Homo sapiens: one gene and its partners. The protein of the gene in region 2 purifies or fractionates together with the protein of the main gene of each other region. This does not show direct contact. Each region holds a gene or a part of one and is shown on either strand. Other genes may lie near its edges.

Region 1 (7,025 bases), on a different chromosome or scaffold from region 2:
TGAGCCAGCGTTGGGTTGGAAGTACACAGTACACAAATCAAACCCATAATGCCTTGGAGGTAGGGTTGGAATTTCAGAGAGGCTTTCACTATCAATTTGTACACTTCATATTAACAATTTTTTACAACAAAATGTTATTTTTAAAACCAAGAAAAATATGTACTTTGATTTTTAAAACCCCAATTGTTAAAGAAAAATGCAGAACATGATTAGCATTAAAGATTAGCATGTAGGCCGGGCGCGGGATTACACCTGTAATCCCAGCACTTTGGGAGGCCAAGGCGGGTGGATCACCTGAGGTCGGGAGTTCGAGATCAGCCTGACCAACATGGATAAACCCCATCTCTACTAAAATACAAAAAATTAGCCAGGCATGGTGGCATGCCCCTGTAATCCCAGCTACTTGGGAGGCTGAGGCAGAAGAATTGCTTGAACCCGGGAGGCGGAGGTTGCAGTGAGCTGAGATCGCACCACTGCACTCCAGCCTGGGCAACAAGAGTGAAATGCCGTCTCAAAAAAAAAAAAAACAGATTAGCACGTATACTATCTACAATTAGGTAAAAATATGTTTTTAGAGTATATAAAACTGAAGATTAGGTAGAAGTGATTATTCTACTTTTTTAATTTAAAAAAATCTCTTTTATGCTACTCTACTTCCTCTTTTCTTTTTCTTTCTTTTTTATTTTTATTTTTTTTGAGACAGGGTCTTGCTCTGTTGCCCAGGCAGCAATGCAGTGGCGTGATCATGGATTACTGCAGTTTCAACCTCCCAGGCTCAAGCAATCTACCCACATCAGCCTCCCAAGCAGCTGGGACCACAGGCATGTGCCATTATGGCCAGCTAATTTTTAGAAAAAATTTTGTAGAGATGAGGTCAGTCTCACTATGTTGCCCAGGCTGGTCTCAAATTCTGGCCTCAAGTGATCCTCCCACCTCAGCCTCCCAAAGTGTTGAGATTACAGGTGTGAACCACCACACCCACCTATTTCTTCTTTTTGATAAAAACTGGGGGTATAGAGGGGAAGATGTAGCCAAGATACTCACCTGAGGAGTTCTGGCCATTCTCATCATGATCATTATAGGAGGTCTAAGTCTTAATGTTTCTTTTATACAGCGATCAAGTAAATTTAGATCCTTGAGCTAAAATGAGAAAGCATTTCCTGATTGTTATAAATAACATACTTCAACAGTACAAAAAATTAGTTTAACTTCTTAGTTAGTACAAGACAGCTTGCATTCCAGCTAAAAGTACAGAGGTAACTGGTTCAGGGTGGCTGGGGTTATCATGCTCTACCACTGTCCATGGTGAAAAAGGAGGGCAAGGTAACAGAAGCGATTGCCCTGAAGAATGAAGTAAGAACCTACAAAAATTCACTCCTCCAAAAAATGAAAACAGTAGCAACAATCTTAATGTCAACTTTTTCAAAATTCTGGAAGATTAACCAAAGGCTTGCAACAATCTAAGGAGAGTTAATTCAAGAAAAAGAAATCTGAATCTTGGTAAGAAGAGTAAGCTTTGTGGTAGTGTAAGTTGTATTTCTTTCATCCTCCTCTCCCCAAATCCATGGTAGCCCCGGAAACCAACAGCATGACAACTATAGCAGCTGTGAAAGCCAGAAGCCTAACAACTATTAGAGGAGCCAGAGCAAATTTTCCAAAAATATTTAGCAAAAATTGTTTAACACTGAAGGCGCCTGAGATGGTGATATCAGTTGGTGCTAAGAGACAGAACAAGAAGTTTAAAAGGGAAAACTGGGGAGTAAGATGTCCACAGGAGACTTTGAAAAGTTCCAACATAAGAGAATCTTGAAGGCCACACATATGTATAAGACCATGCATATGCCCAGGTAAGATCTAAGAGGCTGTAATCTTTTACCTCTGGCTGACCTGTACACACAGGTAGTGAAGGCAGACTTGTAACTGCCTGTTGGAGTGTTAATAACATCCCCTAACACACACATACAGAGCCTTTCAGCAAAAGCTAGGAGACTGGCTGTTCAAAGCACTTCAGTAAATCTCTGTCCAAATATTAGATGCCCACTAAAGTAAGCAAGCAGAGATTTCAGTGACCTCACTGAACAAGGAATGACATAATTAATCCAGGAAACGCAGTAAACAAACAGCAGCAGCAACAACAACAACAACAAAGAGCCAGCAACAATAAACCCAGGGAGGAGGGCATCTGATTTCCACAGTTGCCACATTATTTTAAATGTACAGTTTTCAACAAAAAAATTACAAAAAACACACCAAAACAGGAAAGTATGGCCAGTACATAGAAAAAGCAAGCAGTTTAATAGAAACTATCCATGAAGAAGCCCAGACATTGGACTTACTAGATAATGAATTTAAATCAGCTATTATAAACAGGTTCAAAGAACTATAGCAAAATATGCCTAGATATCTCTAGTAAAATGGAGAATATCAATATATTATTTTTTTAGAGAACCAAATAGAAATTCAAGAACTGAGAAGTATGAGAACTGAAATGAAAAATTCACCCGAGGGGATCAACAGCAGATTTGGACTGGCAGAAGAAAGAATAACATCAAAAAAATAACAATAATAAAATACTTAAGAATACATTTAACAAGAGAAGTTTAAACATTGTGCACCAAAAACTATAAAACATTGTTGAAAGAAATTAAAGAACTAAAATAAGAGAAAGACATCTCATGTTCACAGATTTAAAGACTAAAATTGTGCTCCCAAATTAATATGGCGATACAATGCAATCATTGTCAAAAATCTCAGCTAGCTTCTTTGCAGAAACTGACACACTGACCCCAAAATTCATATGGAAACTAAAGGGACTAGGAGTAGATAAACAGCCTTGAAAAGGACAAAGTCAGAGGACTCACACTCCCGAATTCAAAACTTATTACAAAACTACGTAATGGCATCAGACTAAACATATCAATGGAATAGAACTGAGTCCAGAAATAAAGCCTTAAATTTATGGTCAAGAGGCTTTTTAAAATGTATTTATTTTTTCAGAGACAGGGTTTCGCTATGTTGCCCAGGCTGGACCCCAAGTCCTGAGCTCAAGCGACCTTCCCATCTCAGCTTCTCAGTAGCTGAGAATACAGGCACGTGCCACTGCGCCTGGCTATAATAGATTTTTTTACAAAGACAATTCAACGTGGAAAAAATAGTCTTTTCAACAAACAGTGTGGGACAACTGGATAAACACATGCAAAAGAATGATGACCTCACATCATATACATAAATTAATTCATAATGGATCAAAGACCTAAATGTAAGATATGAAACTACAAAACACTAAGAAGAATACACAGAAATAAATCTTCATACACTTTGATTAGGCATTAGTTTCTCTGACACCAAAAGCACATTAAAAAAAAATAGATGAACTCTTACAACTCAATAATAAAAAGACAACTCATTTTAAATATGGGAACAGGATGTGAGCAGACATTTCTCCAAAGAAGTATACCAAAGCCAAAGAACACATCATAAGACACTCAACATCACTAGTCACCAGGGAAATGCAAAATCAAAACAAAATACCAACTGGGCATGGTGGCTCACACCTGTAATCCCAGCACTTTGGGAGGCCAAGGCGGGCAGATGACTTGAGGTCAGGAGTTCAAGACCAGCCTGGCCAATATGGTACAACCTTGTCTCTACCAAAAATACAAAAATTAGCCAGGCGTGGTGGTGTGTACCCAGCTACTTGGGAGGCTGAGGAAGGAGAATAGCTTGAACCTGGGAAGCCGAGGTTGCAGTAAGCCAAGGTCGCGCCATTGCACTAGAGCCTGGGCATCACACCAAGACTCTGTCTCAAAAAAAAAAAAAAAAGTATCACTTCACACCTATTATAATAAAAAAATCAAGTAACAAGTTTGGTGAGGGGGTGAAGTCAGGACCAACATATACTGTTTAGTGAGATTTGAAAGTGGTGCAGCCACTTTTTAAAACAGTCTGGCAGTTCTTCAAAGTTACCTTATAACCCAGCAATTCTACTCCTAGGTATGACCCCCCAAAATTGAAAACACATGTCCACATAAAATCAGTACACAAACGTTTAGAGCGGCATTATTCATAATAGTTTAAAAGGTGGAAACAACTCAAATGTCCATCAACTGATGAACAAATAAACAAAATGTGGTCTATCCATATAATGGAATATTATTGGTAATAACAAAGACTGAAGTACTGATACATGCTACAACATGGAAGAACCCTGATAACATGCTAAGTGAAACAAGGTAGTCACAAAAGACTACAAATTGTATGATCCCATTTACATGAAATATCCAGAATAGGCAAACTCACAGAGGCAAAAGGAGATTAATGGTTGCCAGGGGCAGCAGTCAGGGAGAATGAAGCATGACTGCTAATGGGTACCAGCTCTCTTTTGGGAGTGATGTAAATGTTCTAAAATTAAATTATGATGATGGTTTCCCAACTCTTAATATGCTAAAAACCACAAAGTGTACATTTTAAATGGATGGATTTATGCTATGTAAATATATCAGTTAAGCTGTTATTTTAAGTTACTAAAAACAAGAATGAGTGTTGAGACATCACTACTGAGCTTACAGAAATAAAAAGGATTATGAGAATACTATGAACAATTGTATGCCAACAAATTAGGTAACCTAGATGAAATGGACAAATTCCTAGAGAGATATAAACTACTGAAACTGACATAAGAAGAAATGGAATATCTGAATAAACCTGTAACAAATAAATTGAATTAGTAAGTAAAGTCTTCTCAGAAAGAAAAGCACAGATCTAGATGATTTCACTGCTGAATTTTTGCAAATATGTAAAAAAGGATTAACACCAATCATCCACAAACTCTTCCAAAAATTAGAAGAAAAAAAGAATACTTCCAAATACATTCTATGAGATGAGTATGATCCTGATATCAAAACCAGTCAAAGACATCACAGTGAAACTAGAGATCAATATCCTTTATGAATATAGATGCAAAAATCCTCAACAAAACACCAGCAAGTTTATATGTAGTAACATATAGAAAGAACTATGCACCATGACAAAGTAGGATTTATCCCAGGAATACAATTAACATCTGAAAATCAGTGTAATGTGCCATATTAATATAGGACCAAAAGCACAAAAGATAACAGGAAGATGACATCACCAAGGTTTGCTTCCAAGATGGAATGTCAGGTTGTGCAGTGAGTTGTCCTCTCTTCCTTTCCACCCAGCAAGTTGCATGTAGTATTTGTAAATGTCTTGTCCTCATTACTACTACTACTACTACTTTTAGAAGTCTCTGCTCATGCCCAGGCCACTCTGGACATACAGAATTCTAAGTAATTCAGAGGCTTCTACACTTCATAAGACACACAACATGCACATAATATCCTCTATGTACAGAAGCCAGACTTTGAAGCAGAGGAAGTAAGTACCAAAGAAACATCCCCAAGGATCTCTAAGCCATCAACCCAAAACATATCTGATAAAGCTTAATGGCAAGAAGCAATAACATTAAGATATTTTAGGTAAGGTTATAGGGAATTTGCTAAAAATAGAGAAGCTGATCAATTTAAGCTATAGTATATAGAAAATCTCAAATTGTCCCTTTTAAAAATTAGCCACAGATCCTCAAAGTCATAAGGCAGCAATGAAACTGAAAAATCCAACAAACCTGGTCATAAGTTAAAGGAGGCAGATTCTCTCCACAGACTGTTTTCTGTTCTAAATAACATTTTTTTTGAAGTGTTTTGTCTCTGGCCAAAAAGAAGCCCATCCAAGCACTAGTAGTTGAGGATGTATGCTGCCCTGCCAAGAGTAATCCAATAAGCATCCCTGCTACTTCATCATCAGTCAAAGGACGCCCATCCCTAAGGAATGAACCAAAGACACAAATTTAACATTTTGGCAGATACATTTCATGCCTCAACCTTTAAATAAAGTGTCATAATGAATACATTTTTCAGGTATAGTGGTCTCTTATATTTGACTATCACAAGTCAAGAGTTTTTTTTCTCTTAGGGAAGAGACAGACCAGCACAAAACGATTTTGATTACAAAAGACTCCATTACAGTTCATTAGCAAACTTTTACCATACCCAGTCACTGGGATTACAGTAAGACACAGGATGCCAATAGTTTATGTCTCAACAATTTAAAGAGTCCAAAGATCACAGCTACCAACTTATTTTGCCAGCATCACTGTTTTTTAACTGGAAATACTATTTAACTGTGTTTTAATGTGTAATTTCCTGCTTCAGCTTAATATGTTATCTGAATAGCTCTTACTTGTATGTAGCATCTAGTAAAGTTTGGAGAATGTCATCAATTTTTTCTTGAGACTGTCTGCGTTTCTGGATTGCCTTATAGAAAATATCCTTGATTTCCCGATGAGCTCTGTCCCTGCGTCTGTAATTAAAAGATAAAGATGATTTTCTTAAATAAAGAAATAACCTTCTAGGATCAAATTCATTTTGAGAACCAGGACCGAGCATAAAGCATCTTATTTAACCAACTTTAATGACTCTAAAATAATTGACAAAAAAATCAGAACCAGGAACATACTGGAAGTCATGAAAATCTTACATTGTTAAAAATGTCCATAGTCCCTAAGGGCAAGAACTGTGCTTTATTTAACATATATATCCCAGATTCTTAACACATTGCCTGTGTTCAAACTAAAGGCCTAAAACAAGCAAGAAATTCCTTTAGAAGTATTTTCCAGTTCAACAGAAAGTAGGATACTCTTTTAAATTAACATAAAATTCCAATTTTAATACCAAATCAAGTCTTAAAGCAGAAGAGTCACTCTGGTTCTTCCATGGAATCTGGTTCTACTTTTCACTTTCTAATACAATAGTTTTTTGTAGGGGGTGAAAATACTAGCAGATTCAGAAAACAAGCTTCAACTCCTAAACTTTACCTTTAAATAGTATGTTCACTATGTAGCAGGTACCATGTTAAGTGTTTTACATGAATTACTCACTTTTATCTTCCTGTGAGGTACATACTATTAACCTCAAGTTATAGCTAGCTGCATAAGATCACACAGAAAG
Region 2 (7,869 bases):
ATAATCAATAGGGAGTTATAAGCATTAGGTGAACTCATAAAATGAGCAAGTAACATTTGTACTAACAGGTAGTAGGAAGTCCAAATGAAAAGTGGCAAAAGATATTGAAGAAGCATTGTATAGGGATAAGTATAAAACAAGTCGAAGTCAGATTCTCTAAATAATGCAATTCATCTAAGAAAAAATATTTGTCTTATACCCAGGCATTTAGCAATAAAATAATTCTACTACTGCACCTAATAACAAAACAAAATTACAAGTGTGGATATCATAACTTACTGCTGATTTGGTTCAAAAATTAGCAACAAAAATCTTACCGTTTTAACCACAAAACCACAAAACTGGAAAAGTCTAATTATGAATCACATAATTCATACTTAACTATTAATGTATTTCCAGAGGAGTGGAAACATTGAGGAATGAAAAACAAAGACATTTTGGAAAGAATAAATAAAAATTACTCACTTTGGCTGAGAGATCAACGTCCACATCCTGTTTCTCCTCTCTATCCCGGCTAATTGGACAAGGAGGAAGGCTAGGGCTAAAAGCCATGAGGTCGGTCTTGGGCAACCCCTCTCCAGAGCACACCCTCTGCTGCCTCTGCTGCGAGTATGACCAGCTCCCCACCGCGCTGGAGCACACCAGCGTGGGCTTGCCCGGCCCACAGTCGCCTTCGGTTGGCGGCGCGGAGCACCGCAGAGCAGTATATAGCAGCAGTGTGAGCACCAACAGACTGGACACCGCGCAGATGGCGACGATCAAGTACACGTTGACATCCACCAGTGCAGCTTCCGGGCCCGTGGCGCCAGCGGACGCCTGGGACGAGGCCTTGGGTGCCTGGCCACTCTCCACCAGCGACACCAGCACAGTGGCCGTGGCGGTCAATGAGGGTTCACCGTGGTCCTTCACCAGCACCAGTAGGCGATGGCGCGGGGCGTCCACCTCGTCCAGGGCACGGGTCGTGCTGATCTCTCCCGTGTACAGCCCCACGCGAAACGGGATGCGCGCACCGCCGGTCCCAGGCTGCAGCTCATACGAAAGCCACGCGTTGTAGCCTGAGTCTGCATCCACTGCGCGCACCTTCGCTACCACGTGGCCCGCACCCACTGACCGCGGCACCAGCTCGCTCACTGCGCCACCGATGCCACCCACCCGAGGCATCAGCAGTGCCGGCGCGTTGTCGTTCTCGTCCAGCACGAACACCTGCAGCGTCACGTTGCTGCCCAGAGGCGGCACGCCCGCATCGCGCGCACTCACCTGGAACTGCAGCAGCTCTAGCTCCTCGTGGTCCAGCGGCTGCAGCGCGTACACCTTGCCGCTCTCCGCGTGTACCGACACGTAGCTCGACAGCGCGCGCTCCCCCACCCGCCGTTCCACCAGCGAGTAGGACACCAGGGCGTTCTCCTGCGCGTCCGCGTCCCGCGCAGACACCGTGAAGATGTGGCAGCCCGGCGGGTTGTTCTCCTTCACGAACACCGTGTACTCGGACTGCGAGAATGCCGGCGCATTGTCGTTCACGTCGGCCACCTCCACGGACACGCTGGCCGTGGCCCACAGTGAAGGCGAGCCCCCGTCCCGAGCAGTCACCACCAGCTCATAGGCCGACACGCTCTCGCGGTCCAGAGGGCTGTCCAGCACCAATGAGTAGTAATTCTTGAAGGTGGACACCAGCTTGAAGGGGACGTGGGGCGTCAGCGAGCAGGTGACCTGTCCATTGACTCCTGAGTCGCGGTCGGACACGCTGATCAGAGCGATGACTGTGCTAAGTGGAGAGTCTTCTAATACAGGTAAAGATAGTGATTGAATAACTAACTCAGGTACATTATCATTGATGTCCACAATTTCGAGTAGAACTGTGCAGTGATCTGACATTGGGGGATTTCCTTTATCCGTGGCTTCTACCTGGATTTCATATGACTTACTTTCCTCGAAATCTATGTTACCCTTTACACTGATTTGTCCATTGACTGGATCTAAATGGAATTTTGACAGAATATCTGCTGACATGTCCGTATTGAAAGAATACGCGATATCCTTATTTACTCCTTCATCCAAATCGGTGGCGTTAACGGTCACCACTAGGGTACCATTTGGTGCATTTTCGAGTAATCTGACTTTATAGATCGTCCTCTCAAACGCTGGGGCGTTGTCGTTTACATCTAAAACAGTGATCTTTAGTTGAGTCGTGCCAGTGAGCTCTGGTTTCCCACCATCAATTGCTGTTATTAGTAAATAATGCTTAGGAGTGTCCTCTCGATTTAAATTTTTTTTCAACACGAGTCCAAGGGATTTAATTTCCTCATCATTTCTTTTAACGTCCAAGGTAAAATATTCAGTGGAATCAAGACTGTAAGTCAACAACGAATTTGTTCCGATATCTGCATCTGATGCGCCCTCTAGCGAAAACCGAGAGCCAGGCTGTCGGGATTCGGAAATAAACAGATTCTTTACAGCCATTGGAAAAACTGGCGCGTTGTCATTAATGTCCTTCACTTCCACCTCCACATGGAAAACCTGCAGCGGCCTGTCCACGATCACCTCCAGGTGGATGCTGCACTCCGCGCTCCGCCCGCACAGTTCCTCGCGGTCTATCCGAGAATTCACAAACAAAATGCCATTCTGCAGATTTACCTCCAGAAGGTCCCCGTGTCTTTTGGACGCCACCCGGAACAGGCGCGGCACCAGCTCCGCCAGCTCCAGCCCCAGGTCCTGCGCGATGCGGCCCACGAAGGTGCCATGCTTGGCCTCCTCAGAGACGGAGTAGTGGAGCTGGCCGCTCCCCACCTCCGAGGCTGCGAGGAGCAGAAGAGAAAGCAGCAGGCACTGGGCTCCAGGATCTTCTCGCCAGGAGAACAACATTGCAAGTATTTTCCAAATATTAGATTGCCTTTACATTGATCCAAAGTTTAAAAATAATTCGAGTTCCTTATCTTCATTTCTTAAACTCCTCGGTGTTAAATTTTAGAGAGGATGAAGCAAAGCAGTATCTGAATACGTAATGCACGCTGTTATTTCTTTTGTGGAGAAAGACCTTGTGGTGGACAGCGACATCATGTGGCTAAACGTGTAAGTATTAAATATGTAAACGTATCTTCTTTTCCTTGTATGTCGTTTGAACTTTCCCAAAATTTCTAGTTTCAATTGTAATATCCTTCGGTCACTCCTCAAAGTCCTTATATTTTATCTAAATATTTCCTTAGAACTTTTATACTAATTCACTATCAATTGTGCTAATTCATGACATACACTAAAATATTGTGATTCCTGTTTTAACAGTGGACATCTATTGGAAATATTTCCCATGTGACAGCCACTTTTCTATTTGTCTTAATGGAATTATCCCGTTAAATTATCACAATCCTCTGAAATAAGTTTTAATATTATTCGCTTTTTATAAACACATAGAGGTTAAGTAAAACGATATTATCTCTTGGTACGATGGGATTTCAATCTGATTCAAGACAACTTACCATTAACCTCTTTACCACCCAAGTTACATTTTATAGAAAAATCAGATCCTTTCAGATTTATGATCATCAAAACATTGAGATGTTGAAGTATTTAAAAGTGTGTGTGTGCTGTATATATTAAAACATACATATATCTACTTTTATGTTATTACAGCAACTGTTAATTTCTTAAAATATGTACATTTATGGTTTTTTAAATTTGTAGAATGTCTGTAATTCCCTCCCATGCCCCTTTTTCAAGAACTATAGCCTCATCAACTGTCTTGACTGTAACTTACATAAAGATTTCAGAAGTCGGTCCTTTACAGAGAAATTCAAACAGGAAATTTGTTTCCTATTGTGGGAATGTGATTTGTATATTTGTTACACTCACATCACATCAATTAAGAATATATTAGGTTTAATTTTTCCACACTCTTTATGTATTTGAATTTACCTGTATATACTAAAATGTTAACAATATAAAGTAATTACGTTTTTGATGATCTCCACTCCTGATGAATTTCTAGATTCCAGTTTTTTTAAAAGTTGTTACTTGAAAGAATTGATTATTTAACTAAACAGTGAAGGGAGAAAAGTAACCTAGGAACATAAGCCAGTATTTACTCAACATATTTAACACTAAGCAATAAAACATTCTAAAGATATCTGTGAATTCAATGAGAAGCATGAATTCTCGCCGCATTTGGAAGTGGGGCAAAGAAAATTTATGGAAAGAGGTCAAATTTAGAGAAATAAAATAATGTACAAATTTTTGCTTATACCCAGACCATTTAAAAATGAAATCAAACATGTGATTTAAATATTTAGGGGAAAAGTTTTCATTTCAGCTTTTGTTTCCTGTGTATTCATGAAATGGAAGCCAGGACTGCAACTTACTCAGATTTTATCATTCATATTTAGAATAGGATAAATTATCAATTGTTGTTTTCATGAATAAATAAATTAATATTTTGAATTAACTTTTTCAAGCAAGATAAATAAAAATGTAAGTTAATGATATTTGTTAATATCAAACTTACATAATTTCTAAATGATTATATTGTGCTATATTATGAAGAAGTAAGTAAACATTTAAGCATTATTTCTGAAAAGCATGGACCTAAGAAATAATTATAGCTATTAATATTCCAGTTACCACTTTGCTGAATTTTTAAAGATGGTAGCTAGTTTGAAAATAAGAGATAAATTTAAAATTTTTAAACTTCATGGACTTCATAGTAATGAGATGCCTTTGACAACTTATTGTAATACTGCACTTTTCAGTACCTTTAAGAGTTATACTAATTGCAAAATGGAATGTCACATGAGAATTTATAGCAGAGTAGACTCCATACTGATTATTAAGAGATAAAGGTAATATTAAAGGAACTATGAGTTTAGAAGATTGAGCCATTTTGTAGATAAAGTATCAGTGAATAATTTCTACTACCACCTAGATGTCACTTAGACAACCAAGAAAAAATGTAAATAAGAATGTTTTGAAAAAACTTATAGAGCAACAGATTGTGACTCCTGGAGATTTGGATATATGTGAATATAATTTTAGAAGCTTATCATTTACCTATGGTAGAAACATAGTGGTCAAGTATTACTTGGAAATGGATATTCTGACCTAACTATGAAATGGCTAAAGGTAAGATCACTAGTGGAAGTTATTTCTATGATTTATCAATATGCACATATATTTAGAATAAACAGCAAATAACTAAGAACTAAATAGTAGAGGACCGTTTAAGACAGTTATTTTATTGCAATACATCTGCCTTTGGTTGGAAAAGCTAAAAAAGTTCTTTCCAAGTGTAACATTTACTTGTCGAGTTCAGTGTTATAATTACCCAAAATAAATGTTTCAAGTGAAAATGTAGTCATCCAAGACCAGGCCTCATCTTTTGGAAAAATTCCAATTTCATTAGGAATATGGATGCTTCCAGGTAAAATTGAGTGAGCTCACATTAATGGAAAATGTATTCCCACGCATAGAATTAGATGCCAGAAAAAAGTAGTCAATCTCTGCAGTGGGAGGCCTGCACACATTGGCCTAATGATAATGATACTGAAAGGATGATTTATCAACCATTAACATAAAGACTGGGTAGTCTCCACTTAAATGAAGAAAAAGTCCCACCACCTGAAAAACCCCAGTGTGATTTTTAAATGTTAATATTTTCAAATTAAACAAAATTGAGAGGGTCTCTTTTCTCAATACTCTCTATTTTTGCCTGATAACTCAAAAATGTTATCAGTGTGAAATCTTTATACCAAATAATGGGTTATTTTACTTATAAAAAACATACTTAAGATTAGCAGTTATTCCTAAGTGCTGTCATTTTGTTGTAACAACCTGTGCTACATACTTTTGGAAATTCTGGTGTTAAAATATCCACTCAGGCTGCTTTCAAATACAAATAAAAAGACCAGGTGCAGTGGCTCACTCCTGTAATCCCAGCACTTTGGGAGGCCTAGGAGGGTGGATCACTTGAGGCCAGGAGTTTGAGACCAGCCTGGCCAACATTTAGTTGAGACCAACCCCGTCTCTACTAAAAATAAAAAATTTAAAAAAGAAAATAGCCGGGCGTGGTGGTGGGCGCCTGTAATCCCAGTTACTAAGGAGGCTGAGGCAAGACAATCACTTGAACCCGGGTGGCAGAGGTTATAGTGAGCTGAGATCACACCACTGCACTCCAGCCTAGGTGACAGAGCAAGACTGTCTCAACAAAAACAAACAAACAAAAAAAAAATGTAGCTTATTAACTATTGCATAGACAAGGGCATTGTTGATCCAAAGAACAATCTAAGAAATGTCCAGGATATAGGTTATTCCAAACACTATCCGACAGATTGGATAGACAGTGTCAGTTGAAAATACGTATTATATAATCAAATTCTTTAATTTCTTCCGATTGTGATTTTCAATTTTTAAGAGAGAAAATATTTATGGGAAATGTTTAATTTACAAATTTTGCTGAGGTGTTTTTCAGTGTTTCATGGTCTATTACTTATGACTTAATGATGGAAGTGCCAAAATGTAAAAATAAGAAAACAGTTATGTAGATTGTTTAAATAAATTGTTCAGTAAATGCAATAAATTGATCTCTAATTCATATTCAAAATCGCACGGTAGGATGATATAAAATAAATGAAGAACTATGAATCTAAATAACTAGTAGAAATCATATAGAATTTTTTAAAAAGAACAATTTTAGAATTGGCAAGAAAAAGTAAAAGACTCACCTTTCCTACGTATTCTGATTCTGAGAGCTGTTTCTCTTCTGCGGAGTCTGGACCTTGAGATAAGCTAGGGCTGAAGGCCATGAGGTCCGTCTTGGGGGGGTCCTCCCCAGAGCACACCCTCTGCCGCCTCTGCTGCGAGTAAGACCAGCTCCCCACGGCGCTGGAGCACACCAGCGTGGGCTTTCCTGGCGCGCGCGCACCCTCGGTGGGTGGCACCGAGCACCGCAGCGCAGTGTACAGCAGCACCGTGAGCACCAACAGGCTGGATACCGCGCAGATGGCGATGATCAGGTACACGTTGACATCCACCAGCGTAGCCTCTGAGCCCGCGGCGCCCACCCACGCCCGCGACGAGGCCTTGGGTGCCTGGCCACTTTCCACCAACGACACTAACACGGTGGCCGTGGCTGTCAACGCTGGTTCGCCGTGGTCCTTCACCAGCACGAGTAGGCGGTGTCGAGGGGAGTCAGCCTCGTCTAGGGCACGTGTCGTGCTGATCTCACCCGTGTATAGCCCCACGCGGAACGGGATGCGAGCGCTGCCAGTACCCAGCTGAAGCTCGTACGAAAGCCACGCGTTGTAGCCTGAGTCAGCGTCCACTGCGCGCACCTTCGCCACCACGTGCCCTGCACCCACCGACCACGGCACCAGCTCACTCACTGCGCCAGCAGCGGTGCCAGCCCTAGGCGCCAACAGTGCCGGCGCGTTGTCGTTCTCGTCCAGCACGAACACCTGCAGCGTCACGTTGCTGCCCAGAGGCGGCACGCCCGCATCCCGCGCGCTCACCTGGAACTGCAGCAGCTCCACTTCCTCGTGGTCCAGCGGCTGCAGCGCGTACACCTTGCCGCTCTCCGCGTGCACCGAAACGTAGCTCGACAACGCGCGCTCGCCCACCCGCCGCTCCACCAGCGAGTAGGACACCAGCGCGTTCTCCTGCGCGTCCGCATCCCACGCTGACACCGTGAAGATGTGGCAGCCCGGCGGGTTGTTCTCCTTCACGAATACTGTGTACTCAGGCTGTGCGAACGCCGGCGCGTTGTCGTTCACGTCGGCCACCTCGATGGACACGCTGGTGGTGGCCCACAGTGAAGGCGAGCCCCCGTCCCGTGCGGTCACCACCAGCTCATAGGCTGACACGCTCTCGCGGTCCAGGGCGCTGTCCAGC
Region 3 (7,025 bases), on a different chromosome or scaffold from region 2:
GGACAGCTGGTCTGGTTGCCACCGTAAAGTGGCCCAGAGGAGGCAAGCCCTGGGCCAAGGTCACACAGCACGCCAGGCAGGGCTGGGGCAAGACCCAGGGACAGCCCTACCTCGTCCACCAGCAGCTGGGGGTAGGACTTGACCGGTATGCTGATCACGTTGGGGCCGTAAATGGCCTTCCTGGAAGAGGGGATGAGGCCAAGCCATCAGAAGGAGGAGCTGTGGCTGGACCCTCCCGGGGTGAAGGAGCTCCCCACTTTCAGCTGGGGGAACTGAGGCCCAGAGAAGGCAGGTGACTGGAAGGCAACCACATTGGGGGGCAACACAAGGAGCCCCAGTTCTCAGGGCACCCCGGTCCAGGGCAGCACTGACCTCACCATTTGGTCCTGGAGGCTGAGGCCATGGCGGGAGCGGTGGACGTCGTCACAAGAGCGGCCATGGTCCAGGAGGCTGGGGGTGGGTGCGAGGGGACACGCATGGGCCATGGGGCCTGAGGTCTGCATCCCCCACCCTGTGCAGGCTGGAGACTATGGGCTCTAGGCCCCCCATCCCCGTTCTGCCACACTGAGCTCCTGGGAGCAAGTAAGCCCCCTTGAACCCAAGGCTTGGCTTTGCCCTTTTGTTCCTCTCACTGGGTTCCAAACCAAGTCACTGAAGAAGGAGAACAGCGAGAGATGATGCTAATAATATGAACAGTGAAAAGAGTAGCTGTTATTTAGTGATAAGGGCACTATTTACACTGATGATACCCTGGGCAAGTCACTTAACCTCTCTGTGCCTCAGTTTTCTCATCTGCAAAATGGGGGCAGTGACAGCACCTACCACATAGGGCCATGGGTAGATTAAGTGGGGCAAGCCTCGGGGACTGCTTTGGACGTGCCTGCCACTTGCTAAGTGATGAATGCACGGGTGATTTTTGCTATTATCCCCATCATGCAGCAGAGGCTGTTGCTGCCATCCCCATCTCCCCTCTGCCTCACCTCCACATGACAGCTGGACCCTGAAAACACCTGTCTTTACCTGAGGCCTTCTGGCTGCATGTGAATCCCCTGCCTGTGAGCCCGGAAAGCGTGGAAGACTTTGTGTCCCGTGACTGATAATGGCAGGGAATTTGATGGTAACTGTCCTCACTCCCTGTGTGAGGTCGCCCAGAGGTGTGTGGTCTACGCTGGCCCAAGGAGATCCCCAGGCGACTGAAGTCCGGGTGTCCACAGCTGTGGCAGCCAGCATAACCTCCCTCCGTGCTTCCATCCCTTCCCCAGCACTGCCTGGGATCAGCTTCAAAACAAACTCCCTGCCCTTGAGCCCTTGTCTGGGGGTCTGCTTCTGCGGCATTCAAACTAAAGTGTGTGAGCAGGGCCCGGTGGCTCATGCCTGTAATTCTAGCACTTTGGGAGGCTGAGGCGGGTGGATCACCTGAGGTCAGGTATTTGAGAACAGCCTGGCCAACATGGTGAAACCCCGTCCCTACAAAACATGCAAAAATTAGCTGGGTGTGGTGGCATGCACCTGTAATCCCAACTACTCGGGAGGCTGAGGCAGGAGAATCGCTTGAACCCAGGAGGCGGAGGTGCAGTGAGCCGAGAATGCGGCATTGCACTCCAGCCCGGGCAACAAGAGTGAAACTCCATCTTAAAAAACAAACAAACAAACCAAAAAAACCACACACACACACACACACACACACACACACACACACATACACACAAACTAAGGTGTGTGGTGAGCTTGTGTTTCTTTTTCTTTTTTTTTTTTTTTGAGATGGAGTCATGCTCTGTCATCCAGGCTAGAGTGCAGTGGCGCGATGTTGGCTCACTGCAACCTCTGCCGCCCAGGTTCAAGCGATTTTCCTGCCTCAGCCTCCCAAGTAGCTGGGATTACAGGCACATGCCATCACGCCCAGCTAATTTTTGTGTTTTTAGTAGAGATGGGGTTTCAGCATCTTGGCCAGGCTGATCTTGAACTCCTGACCTCGTGATCCACCTGTCTTGGCTTCCCAAAGTGCTGGGATTACAGGGGTGAGCCACCGCACCCAGCCTGAGCTCATGTTTCTTAAGCCTTTTGTAGGTGGCAGAGCAGTGACTAAACCCCAAGCAGACAGTCTGAGTACAGAGCTGATAGTCTGATTCACAGTGGTGTCACAACCTCAGATCACATTCGGTGCCAAGCTCTACATAAATTATTATCTATTTCACCATCAAAACAATCCTAGGAGGCAGAAGTTATCTTCATGCCCTATTTATAGACAGAGATCCCAGGCCTGGAGGGGCTCAGTAACCTGCCCAAGGTTTCAGACAGCAAAAGCATCAGAGCTGAGAGGGGAGCCCAGGCCATGCCATGCCACCGTCTGTGCCCAAACCAGTGCCACTCTGGGAGGTGACATGAGCCACACAGGCCCTGACTCCTACCTGACCTGGTAGAAGGCTTGCTGGGTCTCGATCCAGATATAGCGCTGGCCCTGGAAGAGGTAATACCGCAGCACCCGCTTCTGGGTGGGAGAGAGGAGAGGATGGGTTGGAAGCTGGCCCCGGCCCCAGAAGCAGTGTGCTTATGCTGGGAGCCGAGGGATGGGGGTAGGGGGCAGGGACTGGTGTCACCAGACAGAGAGGTGGGGAGAGGCCTGAAAGTGTAAACGTGCTCAGACAGCATCCTGGATGTTTGGGACAACAGAACTAAAAGGTGGTGGGAGAACATGAAGTCTGACTCTCCCATTGCACAGATCATGAAACCGAGGCCGAGAGAGGGGCAAGGACTTTTTCAGAACCCACCTGTCCGACACTCACCGCCTCCTCGCTCTTGTGGAGCTGGGCCGTATCCTTCCAGGCACCCTCTGGTACCGCCCCAACTGCCGCCTGGCTCCGGCCATCCTCTGCCTGGGACTGTGGGGACGGCTCCAGGCTGGGGAAGCAGGTGAGGGTTACTCTCGAGCTCTGGGAGCTGCCCTGGCACCTCCCTGTGCTCACAGAGCCATCTTCCCTCCCTAGGATGGGAGGCGCCAGAGTCAGCCTTTATGGGGGGGCCGAGGGTTGGGGAAGTTGGGGAGGCCAGGGTAGCAGGGGCTTCTGGGAAGGGGCAATGGGGCTGCCTCACCTGCCCTCGCCGATGGCCTCAGTCTGCACCTGGACAGTGAAGAGCTGCCAGGAACTATCCTGGAACACAGAGGTATGGACTCAGTCTCAGAAGAGTCCCCTCCCCTCCCAGGCCCTGTCCTACAGCCAGGCGGCCCCTGCTGGAGAAGGCAGAAATCAAGGCTATGGAGAGCCCTCCAGAAACCACCCGACCCGTCCCTTCTGCCCAATGCTCAGATGGGAAAGCTGAGGTCCAGAGAAGAGCGGGACCTGCCTAATGTCCCATGGAAAGTCAGTGGCCGGGTTGGCACCCAAGCATCCTCCACCCCCGACCCTGACCCTCACTGCGCTTCTCTAGCCCCAGGCTCAGCCTGACTCTCACCTCTTTGTCTCTTATTTCGATAACGAGTGTTTCGGCGTGGGCCAGGTTGCAGGGCCGGAGCCGCAGCCGCACCCCCCACAGGGGCTTCCAACGGAAGAGCAGCAAAGGGATCCCAGCCATCATCCAGACCACGACGTGATAGCCGATGACCCTCCATGGACTGCCACAGTAGCCGCTGAGCCTCTGCGAACGCAGCGAGAGAGGGCCCAGGTCGGGGTGGGAACGGGGCTGGAGTAGGAAGTTGGGGTGTCTGGGTGGGCCTGGGCATTCACCCCCTGCAGCTTTTCCCCACCCCACTCTGCCCACTTACCACGGATGAAACTGAGGAGCTGAGGGGATCTATTGATGTCCCTATCGTCAGGGTCCCATAACCGGTGGGCGTGCTGCCCACGAGAGGGCTGCTGTCTGTGGACAGAAAAGAGAAAGGTCATTTGGGGAGGCACCTTCTCCTCTTGCTTCCTTAAAAACAATAAACATCAGCCTGGGCGCGGTGGCTCACGCCTGTAATCCCAGCACTTTGGGAGGCCGAGGCGGGTGGATCACCTGAGGTTAGAAGTTCGAGATCAACCTGGCTAACATGGTGAAACCCATCTCTACTAAAAATAAAAAAAATTAGCCGGGCGTGGCAGCGCGTGCCTGTAATCTCAGCTACTCAGGAGGCTGAGGCAGGGGAATCACTTGAACCTGGGAGGTAGAGGTTGCAGTGAGGCAAGATCACACCACTGCACCCCTGCCTGAGCAACAGAGTGAGACTCCATCTCAAAAAACTAAACAAAACAAAACACAAAACAGTAAGCACCTGGTCTGACAGAGCCCAAAGCTCATGTCTTCCTGTGTCCTTTATCTGGCTCTTCTTTCCGTCGGTTCTTACTTACCGTATCTTTTTTTTTTTTTTGAGACGGAGTGTCACTCTGTCACCCAGGCTGGAGTGCAGTCACTTGATCTCAGCTCACTGCAACCTTTGCCTCCCAGGTTCAAGCGATTCTCCTGCCTCAGCCTCCCGAGTAGCTGGGATTATAGGCATGCACCACCATGCCCAGCTAATTTTTGTATTTTTAGTAGAGATGGGGTTTCACCATGTTGGCCAGGCTGGTCTCGAACTCCTGACCTCAAGTGATCTGCCCACTTTGGCCTCCCAAAGTGCTGGGATTACAGGCATGAGCCACCGTGCTTGGCCAGTAGTGTCTTGTTTCCTTGCGTGTGTCGGTCTTTCTGCTGGGTATGGCCCAGAATTGGAGAATGGGGCCTGGACAGTGCCCCAAGCCCCCATGGTGCTCGTGCATCCAGCCATTAGCTTCCTTGGAGCTCTGGGTCTCACTTTTCTATCCTCATCCAGTCCCCACCCTGAGGGCAGGGGTCAGGGATGCTTATCTTCATTCCATGCCCGTGCCCAGCCCAGGTCTGGCAGTGAGGAGATGCAAAGTCAAGTCTGGACTAATAAACGGTCAGCCCTGCAGGCCTATCTTTACAGATGGGTAAACTGAGACTTGGGGAATGGTATCAGGTGGTTCTATTGCAGATATTCTTTTTTTTTTGAGATGAAGTCTTGCTCTGTCGCCCAGTCTGGAATACAATGGCATGATCTCGGCTCACTACAACCTCTGCCTCCCAGGTTCAAGCGATTATCCTGCCTCAGCCTCCCGAGTAGCTGGGATTACAGGCGCCCAGCTAAGTTTTGTATTTTCAGTAGAGACGGGGTTTCACCATGCTGGTCAGGGTGGTCTCAAACTGCCGACCTCAGGTGATCCACCCGCCTTGCCTCCCTGAGTGCTGGGCTGACAGGCTGAGCCACTGCGCCCGGCCACAGACATTCTTTTCACTCCTTCCTCCTGTGCTGTAGAGCTGTGGCCTTAGCAGGGCAGGCAGCCAGTGGATGTTCTGGGGCTCCAGAGCGGGTAGAGCTCACCAGCCCCACCCTTGGACAGCCTCTGTCAGGGTTCATCTACGGTCCCAGACCACCTGGAGCACCTTTTACATATGCAGATGCCAGGGCCCTCCCCAGACTGGCTGGATCAACTCCTCAGGCCGGGGTAGGGATGGTGCTAGGCATCTGTGGTTTCACAAGAGCCTCTGAAAAAGCTCACTAAGCTGGAAAAGCTGGGCGGGTGCGGGGTAGGCTGCTGATTTTCTGGGCTCCCTCCTTCATCCCCCAATCTGAGCCCTTCTAAAATTTTTCCTTTTTTTTTTTTTTTTTTTGAGAGCGAGTCTCGCTCTGTCACCCAGGCTGGAGTGCAGTGGCGCGATCTCGGCTCACTGCAAGCTCTGCCTTCCGGGTTCACACCATTCTCCTGCCTCAGCCTCCCAAGTAGCTGGGACTACAGGCGCCCGCCACCACGCCCGGCTAATTTTTTGTATTTTTAGTAGAGATGGGGTTTCACCGTGTTAGCCAGGATGGTCTCGATCTCCCGACCTCGTGATCCGCCCGCCTCGGCCTCCCAAAGTGCTGGGATTACAGGCGTGAGCCACAGCGCCCGGCGAGCCCTTCTAAAATTTCTACCCAAAGAGTCCAGAGTGCCCCAGGCAGCTGCTGTGGGCACAGCACCCCCAGCCTCTGAGCAGCCCCATCCCCAAGCACTCTGGCTTCAACACTCCTAGAGGGCTCACTGTGCACAGGGTACATGGCTAACGTATCAACCCTGCCAGGTAACCTCGGTTGTGATGTCCTTTCATTCATTCATTCATTCATTTATTTACTTATCACTCTTGTAGCCTCGGCTTCCCAAAGTGCTGGGATTACAGGCGTGAGCCACCATGCCCAGCTTACAGTTTTCGTGTATAAGTCTTTTTTTGAGACAGTCTCTCTCTGTCACCCAGGCTGGAGTGCAGTGTTGCGATCATAGCTCACTGCAGCCTTGACCTCCCAGGCTCAAGCAATTCTCCCACCTCAGCCTCCAAATAGCTGGGACTACAGGCACAGGCCACCATGCCCAGCTAATTTTTTTTGTAGAGACAGGGTTTTGTCTTTTTGCCCATCATTTGTTCCTAAGAATTTCTTTTTTGATGCTGTGTTTCATACAGCAAGTGCCTTTGCCTCTCTGGGCTTCCATTTCTCATCTCTAGGATGATAGTCCCGAAGCATCCAGCACACAGGGAGGTAGAAGCATTTGAAGTTCCTGGGGGGGTTGCGTGGACAGGTGGGCAGGACCCGGCTCCCAGGTCAGGGGGGCGTGGCTTCTGCTTATCCATTTCCCAGGCTCTCTTCTCCTTTCACATCACCCTGTCTGAAGCCCTGGCTGTCCCACGGCTCCCTAGGCCCATTCAACAGTTGCTCCTTGTACCTTAAAACCCTCAGGCCGGCCGTGCGCAGTGGCTCACGCCTGTAATCCCAGCCCTTTGGGAGCCCAAGGGGGGCGGATCACGAGGTCAGGAGGTGGAGACTAGCTGAGACCATCCTGGCTAACACGGTGAAACCCTGTCTCTACTAAAAATATAAAAACCAAATTAGCCGGGCGTGGTGGCAGGCGCCTGTAGTCCCAGCTACTTGGGAGGCTGAGGCGGGAGAATGGTGTGAACCCAGAAGGTGGAGCTTGCAGTGAGCTGAGATCACGCCACTGCACTCCAGCCAGGGTGACAGA
Region 4 (7,025 bases), on a different chromosome or scaffold from region 2:
TGTGTATTAAGTATTTTCTCTATGCTAGGCATTCGTTTAGGAGAATAATAGATATTTGCTTTATAGTATGCTTTTCTTGGCATAAAATATTTGCTAGACATAAAGTTACCAAAAAGTGCAGGAACCTAGTGTTTCTTTTCATTTATGTTTTAGTTTCTTCAATGTAATAAAACATGCTATGAACATCTCAAATTCTAAGATAAATATTTTTATATCGTAAGGCAGAAAAAAAAGTTAAAATGACTTAAAGATTTGTATTCTAAAGCAAACTATGATTCTTACACAAAAGTCAGCCACACAAGTTTGTTGGTTAATCTCTATGTGAGAAGACTAGACATTTACGATGAGCTCAATTTTGTAAAACAGTAAGTTTAAAGAATATAATATGACACATTTAATTTTTAAGAGGAGCAGCAGCATTCTGTGTCCATTGTGATGCACCAAATATAGTTAGATTTTGTCAACTTCATAAAACCTTAATAATTTTTAAAATTGCTTTCATAGAGTTTGGATTATTATAAAACAATTAAATGTCAGATTTAAATTTTTGTATTTTAATTTAGCTTTTCAAATTTATTCCATTGAGGTCCTTCAAATATTAATAGGGAGAGTACCAGTAAGTAGTACATTAAGTTTCAAAATGATCTATACTTCTAAGAGAAGAGATTACGTTTTTAAATATGAGAGAATTACATATATTTCCATCTAGTTTCTTTCGTGCCAGCAAAACTTTTGTGGTTTCAAGCAAGGTCTTTGTAGGAAAAAAGTTTCTCATTTTATTTTTATCAAAGTTGAGTTTCCTCCCGAGAATCTTGACCAGTGACATTGCAGATGCTGTTTCTTCGACTGGGCTCACTGTTTGGAAGGTAGGCCAGTGGATCTGGTCGAATTAAGTATCTAATAAAAGAAAACAAAATAAATAACTTTGCAATAGTAAATACAGGCAACATTAATTCACACTGACACTTCATATTTCTAATTTATTTGTTCAGTTTTCAGATTATCTAAACTGTCTGTATACAACATTGGTGGTAGAACTCACTGTTTGGTTGGCCTTTACAATTTGGCATGGTTAATATTATCATTTTCATACCTGAGAAGATTATGATGATGAATGCTGATGAATCAAGCACTATTATTTTTCTTCTTCATCTTTTTCCCTGTGCATGTTGACTGTCAGTCACCATTATTTTTCAATTATAATCAATTTCAGCACCTTCGTCTCATCAAAGTTTTATGATTAAGTATGCTGTTGACTTATTATCCCTTACTTTGGCCATTTTTCTATGAAGGAGACCTACATTTTAGCCATCATTCTTCCATTACTTAACTGTTCTTTGTCTTATTTTTATCACTTAAAAAATTAGGAGATTGATGTAAGCAATTTCTATAGTCTTTTCAATTTAAATATTTTATGAATCTATAAAATCAACAGTTTAACAAATGTTATAGTGAATATAATGCATAACGTTTAAATTAGCAGGAAAATTATTTATCTAAAATTCAGCTTATGGTATAGTAAGTGATAATACTAAAGTATAGAGAATAATTCTTAATTAATTCTGCTAGTAAATAGAAAAATGTTTATCTGCCAAACTCAAACATTTCATTAATGTGAGAATTTGTTTTCAGAGAGTTGTCTTACTTTAGACTGTCAAATGATGTACAGGCATGCCTTTTTTATTGCTTTTGACTTGATTGCACTTTGCCAATATTGAATTATTTATAAATGGAAGGTTTGTGGCAACCCTGAATCAAGCAAGTCCGTTGGAGACATTTTTTCCAGCATGTGCTCACTTAGGGTCTCTGTGTCAGATTTGGTAACTTGAACTTTTTCCATTGTAATTATATCTGTTATAGTGATCTGTGATCAGTAATTTTTGATGTTCCTATTGTAATTGTTTTGGGATACCACTATCCGCACCCATATAAGAAGGCAATTTTAACCAATAAAATATGTGTGTTCTGATCACTCCACCAACTGGCTATTCCCTCGACTCTTTTCCCTCTCCTCCACCATCTGTATTCCCCAAGACACAAAAACATTAAAGTTAGATTAGTTAATAACCCAAAAATGACTTGTAATTGTTTAAGTGAAAGGAAGAGTATCATGTCTCTCACTTTAAATCAAAAGCTAGAAATGATTATGCTTAGTGAGGAAGGAACATCAAAAGCTTACATAAGTTGGAAGTTAGGTCTTTTGTGCCAGTTAGCCAAGTTGTGAATGCAAAGGAAAAGTTCCTAAGGAAATTAAAAGTGCTACTCCAGTGAATACACAACTGATAAGAAAAGGAAACAGCCTTATTGCTGAGATGGCAAAAGTATGAGTGGTCTGGAAAAAAGATCAAACCAGCTACAACATTCCCTTAATCCAAAGCCAAATCCAGAGCAATGCTCTACCTCTTTTCAATTCTCTGAAAGGTGAGGGAAGTGAAGAAGCTATGGAAGAGGTTAGCTATGGAAGAGGAAGCTAGCAGAGGTTAGCTCATGAAGCTTAAGGAAATGAGTCCCCTCCATAACATAAACGTGCAAGATGAAGTAGATAGTGCTAATGCAGAAGCTACAGCAAGTTATCAAAAAAATCAAACTATTAATAAGATTATTGATGAAGGTGGCTAAATTAAACAACAGATTTTCAATTTGGAAGACAGCCTTCTATTGGAAAAAGTTGCCATCTAGTACTTAAGTAGCTAGAGAGGAGAAGACAAAGCCTAGTTTCAAAGCTTCAGTGACAAGCTGACTCTCTTGGTAGGGGCTAATGCATTCGGTGACTTTCAGTTGAAGCCAATACTCATTTACCATTCTGGAAATCCTAGGACACTTAAGAATTCTGCTAAATCTGCTCTGCCTATGCTCCAGAAATGGAAAAACAAAGCCTGACTGGCAGCAAATCTGTTTAAAGCATAGTTTACTGAAAATGTTAGGCCCATTGTTGAGACTTAACACTTAAAAAAAAGACTTCAAAATATCACTGCCCCTTGATAAGGCACCTGGTCACCCAAGAGCTCTGATGGAGATGTACAATGAGATTAGTATTGTATCATTCTTGCTAACACAACATCTATTCTGCAGCCCATGGATCAAAGAGTAATTTCAATGTTCATGATTCGTGGGATGAGGTAGAAATATCAACATTAACAGAAGTTTGGAAGAAGTTGACTCCAACCCTTATCGATGACTTTGAGGGGATCAAGACTTCAATGGAGGAAGTAACTGCAGTTGTGGTAGAAATAGCAAGATAACTAGAATTAGAAGTGGAGCCCAAAGATGTGACTCAACTGCTGCAATCTCTGACCAAAATTTGAATGAATGAGGAGTTGCTTCTTATTTATCATCAAATAAATTGGTTTCTTGAGATGAAATCTACTCCTGGTGAAGATGCTATGAACATTGTTGAAATGACTGTAAAGAATTTATATTATTACATAAACTTAGTTGACAAAGTAGCAGCAGGGTTTGAAAGGATTGACTCCAGTTTCAAAAGAAGTTCCACTTCGGGTAAAATGCTATCAAAGGGTATTACATGCTACAGATAAATATTGCATGAAAGAAAGAGTCAATCAATGCAGCATACTACTTCATTGTTGTCTGATTTTAAGAAATTGCCACACCCCTCCAACCTTCAGTAACCACTACCCCAATCTGTCAGCAGCCATCAACATTGAGGCAAGACTCTCTACCGGCAAAAAAAGATTATGACTCCCTGAAGGCTCAGATGACTGCTAGCATTTTTTTTTTAGCAATAAACTGTTTTTTAATTAAGTAAATTTTTAGACATAATGCTTTGCTTTTGCACACTTAGTAGACTAAAGTATAATGCAAACATAAATTTTGTATGCACCGGGAAACCAAAAAATTCAAGTGACTGGCTTGATTGCAATATTCACTCTATTGTGGTAGTCTGGAACCAATCCTGCAAAATCTCTGAGGTATGCCTGAGTATCTTTAGTGACTGCTTCTTGAGCACCTGTAGGAAACTGTGCTAACACCTTAGAATTAAAACAAAATCACAAAACATGACTCCTGTCCGGCAGAAGATTAAAGTAAAATTTATGAAGCAGATATAATGGAAGAAAAAAAAAGAAATTCCAAACATCATACAAAGTGAAAAAGAACAACAGAGAGAATTAGGAACTGCTTTATTGTGGGGTTGGGTTGAACTTGCCTCTCCAGGCTTCAGAGAAGATTTAGGAGGAAGGAACAGGAGGTGATCCCAAATGTTGTCAATGGAGACCACAGAGGATGGATGTTTCTGATGTGCTTAGAAATGATTTGACTTTAGAAAACTAGTAAATCATGGTAGGTAAAGTCAAAAACAAAGGTAGGAAACAGGTAATGAATGACCTTAAGTTTCAGAATAAGTAGTTTCAATTTGTGTTTTAAAGGCAGTAGGAAGCCACTAAGGGTTTGAAAAGGAGAGAAGAAAATAAATATATGCAACACAGCATTCTAAGAAAGTCATGTTCCAAGTCCAAATGAAAGAAGTATTTAATACTTCTATAATATTTTTAAGAGGCAGTATATAAAATGAACAGGAAAACTAATTAAAAAGTGAGAACGCTAATAAAGTTTGCACTTTTGTCTTAAAGACTGAAGGGAAAAATTCACAAAATATACTCCTTAATGAAAATGAGAAAAGGCAATCAAAAACACTGAGTCTATTTTCTTTGACCAAATAAAAGTTGAGACTAGTGTTCTTGGACCTATTAACTGGATTTTGTCATCTATGCACACTGCTTTATAGTTACTTTAAATATCAATAGCATTGTGGATTGATGAAGAAAACTAATAGTGCACATTACACTTTTTAATACCATATCATCTAGTGATTTATTATTGTTCGCATCAAATTAATGTTGCTTCTTCATTTAAAACAAACTTCCGAAAGTGAATTTTTAGAAAAACATAAAAGATAACAGTATAATCCATTATTCTCTGCATTCATTGATGCAGTAGCAAAAGTTCCTTTTCCTATTATTGTCACTACAAAACCTATGAGTCCAATAAAGCAAATTTCTTAAACTGTGTTTTTATATATTACATGTCATGGTAGGCATCTTTCAAATGATAATTTATCATTGTTCTGGTTCCACTGAAATTTAATTATCTCAATGCCACAAATACAGATCACTGCAATGGTGTAAGAAAAGCTTTTTTATTTTTTTAATAGCAGTCAAGTTGATGTTTTAGCTTAAAACTAATAAAAAATAAGAGTATCTAAAAGACAGAAAATTCTCTAAAAATATGTCTACTTTACCTGTCCACATTGTGACATACATATTTTATTCATAAGTAAAAAGATTAAACATCATTTGAAATCAAGAACATAAATATTTGACAAAATGACATGTTCTTAGTCTCAAAAGGGTGACAACATTTTCTTTGAACATTCTGTCAAAAATAATTATGGGAAATGATTGTATTAAGCTTAAGAAACATAATTTATTATAAAATACAAATAAGGTAAGCATAATTTTTTAAATTCTATATAATTAACACAATTATATTTATTTGAAAAAAGGTATAAGAAGGCTGGAATTAATATGGGTAGATTAGATATTTAATAAAAATTATCTATACTTATGGACTTAAAAGAAAAAAGACATGTATAAATGTGGATGCCATGAAAAAAGAACAGCTTTATTTTATTATCATAATATACTATGTGAAGGGTCCAGGATGAGTAATTAAAATCCAAGTGCATCATAAATAAGATGTTTTCCTCTAATTGAAGTCCTTTATAAATTCAATATCACCATCAGATACAATTTTTGACAGTGACTTAAGAATTCTACTAGCTTAAATTGTTATTCATCTGTTTCCCCAATGCTCCTGTATTCTAACCAGTATTATCAGATGGCAAAATAAAGCAATATTATACTTGATAGTTCTATCTTAGGTGCATTTTAGGAATCTTTTCACACTTATTTGGGGTCAGATTTACTCCTGCTGTTTTATTTTCCTAATAAGTTTTTGAAATGCTTCCTGTTTCTGCCCTAAAACAAAACACTCGTCAGTAGTACAACACTAATTATTCTACTGTTTCTTCTGTATTTATATTTTTGGAAAAAACATTCCCTATTTAGCCTTTTTCAGCTGGAAGATAAAAAATATTTTTTCTACAGAAAACTAGCTTATCTTCAAAGTTCCAATACTGTGTATCTAAATGCTTTCTAGACATTTCCTCTTTATACTTTAAATAACATATTTGAATGGATGGATGAAGAAAATTTGTGGTATATATGCAAAGTAGAATACCATTCATCCATAAAAAAGATGAAATTCTGTCATTTGCAGCAACATAGTCAGTGTTAAATGAAATAAGCCACAGAAAAACAACATAGTCAGTGTTAAGAGAAATAAGCCACAGAAAAACAAATATCATGTTTTCATTCAAATGTGTGAGCTAAAATAATTGATCTCATGGAGATAGTAGGCAGAATGTTACCAGAGGCTGGGAAGGGTGATGAGGAGGGGAAGATGGAGAGAAACTGGTTTATTAGTAACCAAAATACAGTTACACAGAAGAAATAAATTCCAGTGCTTCAAAGCACAGTAGGGCAACTATGCTTAACAAGACTTCATTGTATATTTCAAAATAGCTGGAAAAGAACATTTGGGATATTCCTAACACAAAGAAATTATAAATGTTTGGGGTAATGGCTACCTCAATTACCCTGATTGATCATTACATATTTTATGCATGTATCAAAATATCACATGTACCTCATAAAATGCACAACTATTATATATCAATAAACTTAATTAATTAGAAAGTCAACATTTATTAAAAATACATATATACCTGGACCCACATATCATCTCTTTTTTTTTTACTACCCAACAGCCCCTCTTTCCTGCCTGGAAAATTGTCTCCCCATTCTGACTTGTTTTGATGAAACAACATTTTTTTTTTATTTTTGTAATCACACAGTTTGAAACCCTAAAGCTGTGTTAAACTTCTTTTTCAATTCCCAAATCAATAATCAAGTCTCATTTTCTGCCTTCATAAATCTATTTACATA

What was found.
Region 1: the proteins of PCDHA3 (region 2) and CYP51A1 purify together in Homo sapiens (co-immunoprecipitation; 3 studies listed by BioGRID and IntAct, with this or other methods). This does not show direct contact.
Region 3: the proteins of PCDHA3 (region 2) and ATP13A2 purify together in Homo sapiens (affinity purification with mass spectrometry; 2 studies listed by BioGRID and IntAct, with this or other methods). This does not show direct contact.
Region 4: the proteins of PCDHA3 (region 2) and KCNT2 purify together in Homo sapiens (affinity purification with mass spectrometry; 2 studies listed by BioGRID and IntAct, with this or other methods). This does not show direct contact.

What each region holds. Positions count from the first base shown.
Region 1 is NC_000007.14:92,117,476-92,124,500, forward strand, and holds part of CYP51A1 (lanosterol 14-alpha demethylase), read right to left. Parts: intron 6,379-7,025; coding exon 6,259-6,378; intron 5,841-6,258; coding exon 5,645-5,840; intron 1,141-5,644; coding exon 1,045-1,140; intron 1-1,044. UniProt on the Homo sapiens protein: Sterol 14alpha-demethylase that plays a critical role in the cholesterol biosynthesis pathway, being cholesterol the major sterol component in mammalian membranes as well as a precursor for bile acid and steroid hormone synthesis.
Region 2 is NC_000005.10:140,796,188-140,804,056, reverse strand, and holds the start of PCDHA3 (protocadherin alpha-3 isoform 1 precursor), read right to left. Parts: upstream 3,001-7,869; 5' UTR 2,860-3,000; coding exon 466-2,859; coding exon of another isoform or gene 385-465; exon of another isoform or gene 1-384. Other genes in the region: PCDHA2 (protocadherin alpha-2 isoform 1 precursor), read right to left, coding at 6,705-7,869. UniProt on the Homo sapiens protein: Potential calcium-dependent cell-adhesion protein. May be involved in the establishment and maintenance of specific neuronal connections in the brain.
Region 3 is NC_000001.11:17,001,924-17,008,948, forward strand, and holds part of ATP13A2 (polyamine-transporting ATPase 13A2), read right to left. Parts: intron 3,856-7,025; coding exon 3,761-3,855; intron 3,634-3,760; coding exon 3,451-3,633; intron 3,150-3,450; coding exon 3,091-3,149; intron 2,899-3,090; coding exon 2,769-2,898; intron 2,489-2,768; coding exon 2,409-2,488; intron 451-2,408; coding exon 373-450; intron 181-372; coding exon 111-180; intron 1-110. UniProt on the Homo sapiens protein: ATPase which acts as a lysosomal polyamine exporter with high affinity for spermine. Also stimulates cellular uptake of polyamines and protects against polyamine toxicity.
Region 4 is NC_000001.11:196,227,439-196,234,463, forward strand, and holds part of KCNT2 (potassium channel subfamily T member 2), read right to left. Parts: intron 898-7,025; coding exon 786-897; 3' UTR 1-785. UniProt on the Homo sapiens protein: Sodium-activated and chloride-activated potassium channel. Produces rapidly activating outward rectifier K(+) currents. Contributes to regulate neuronal excitability.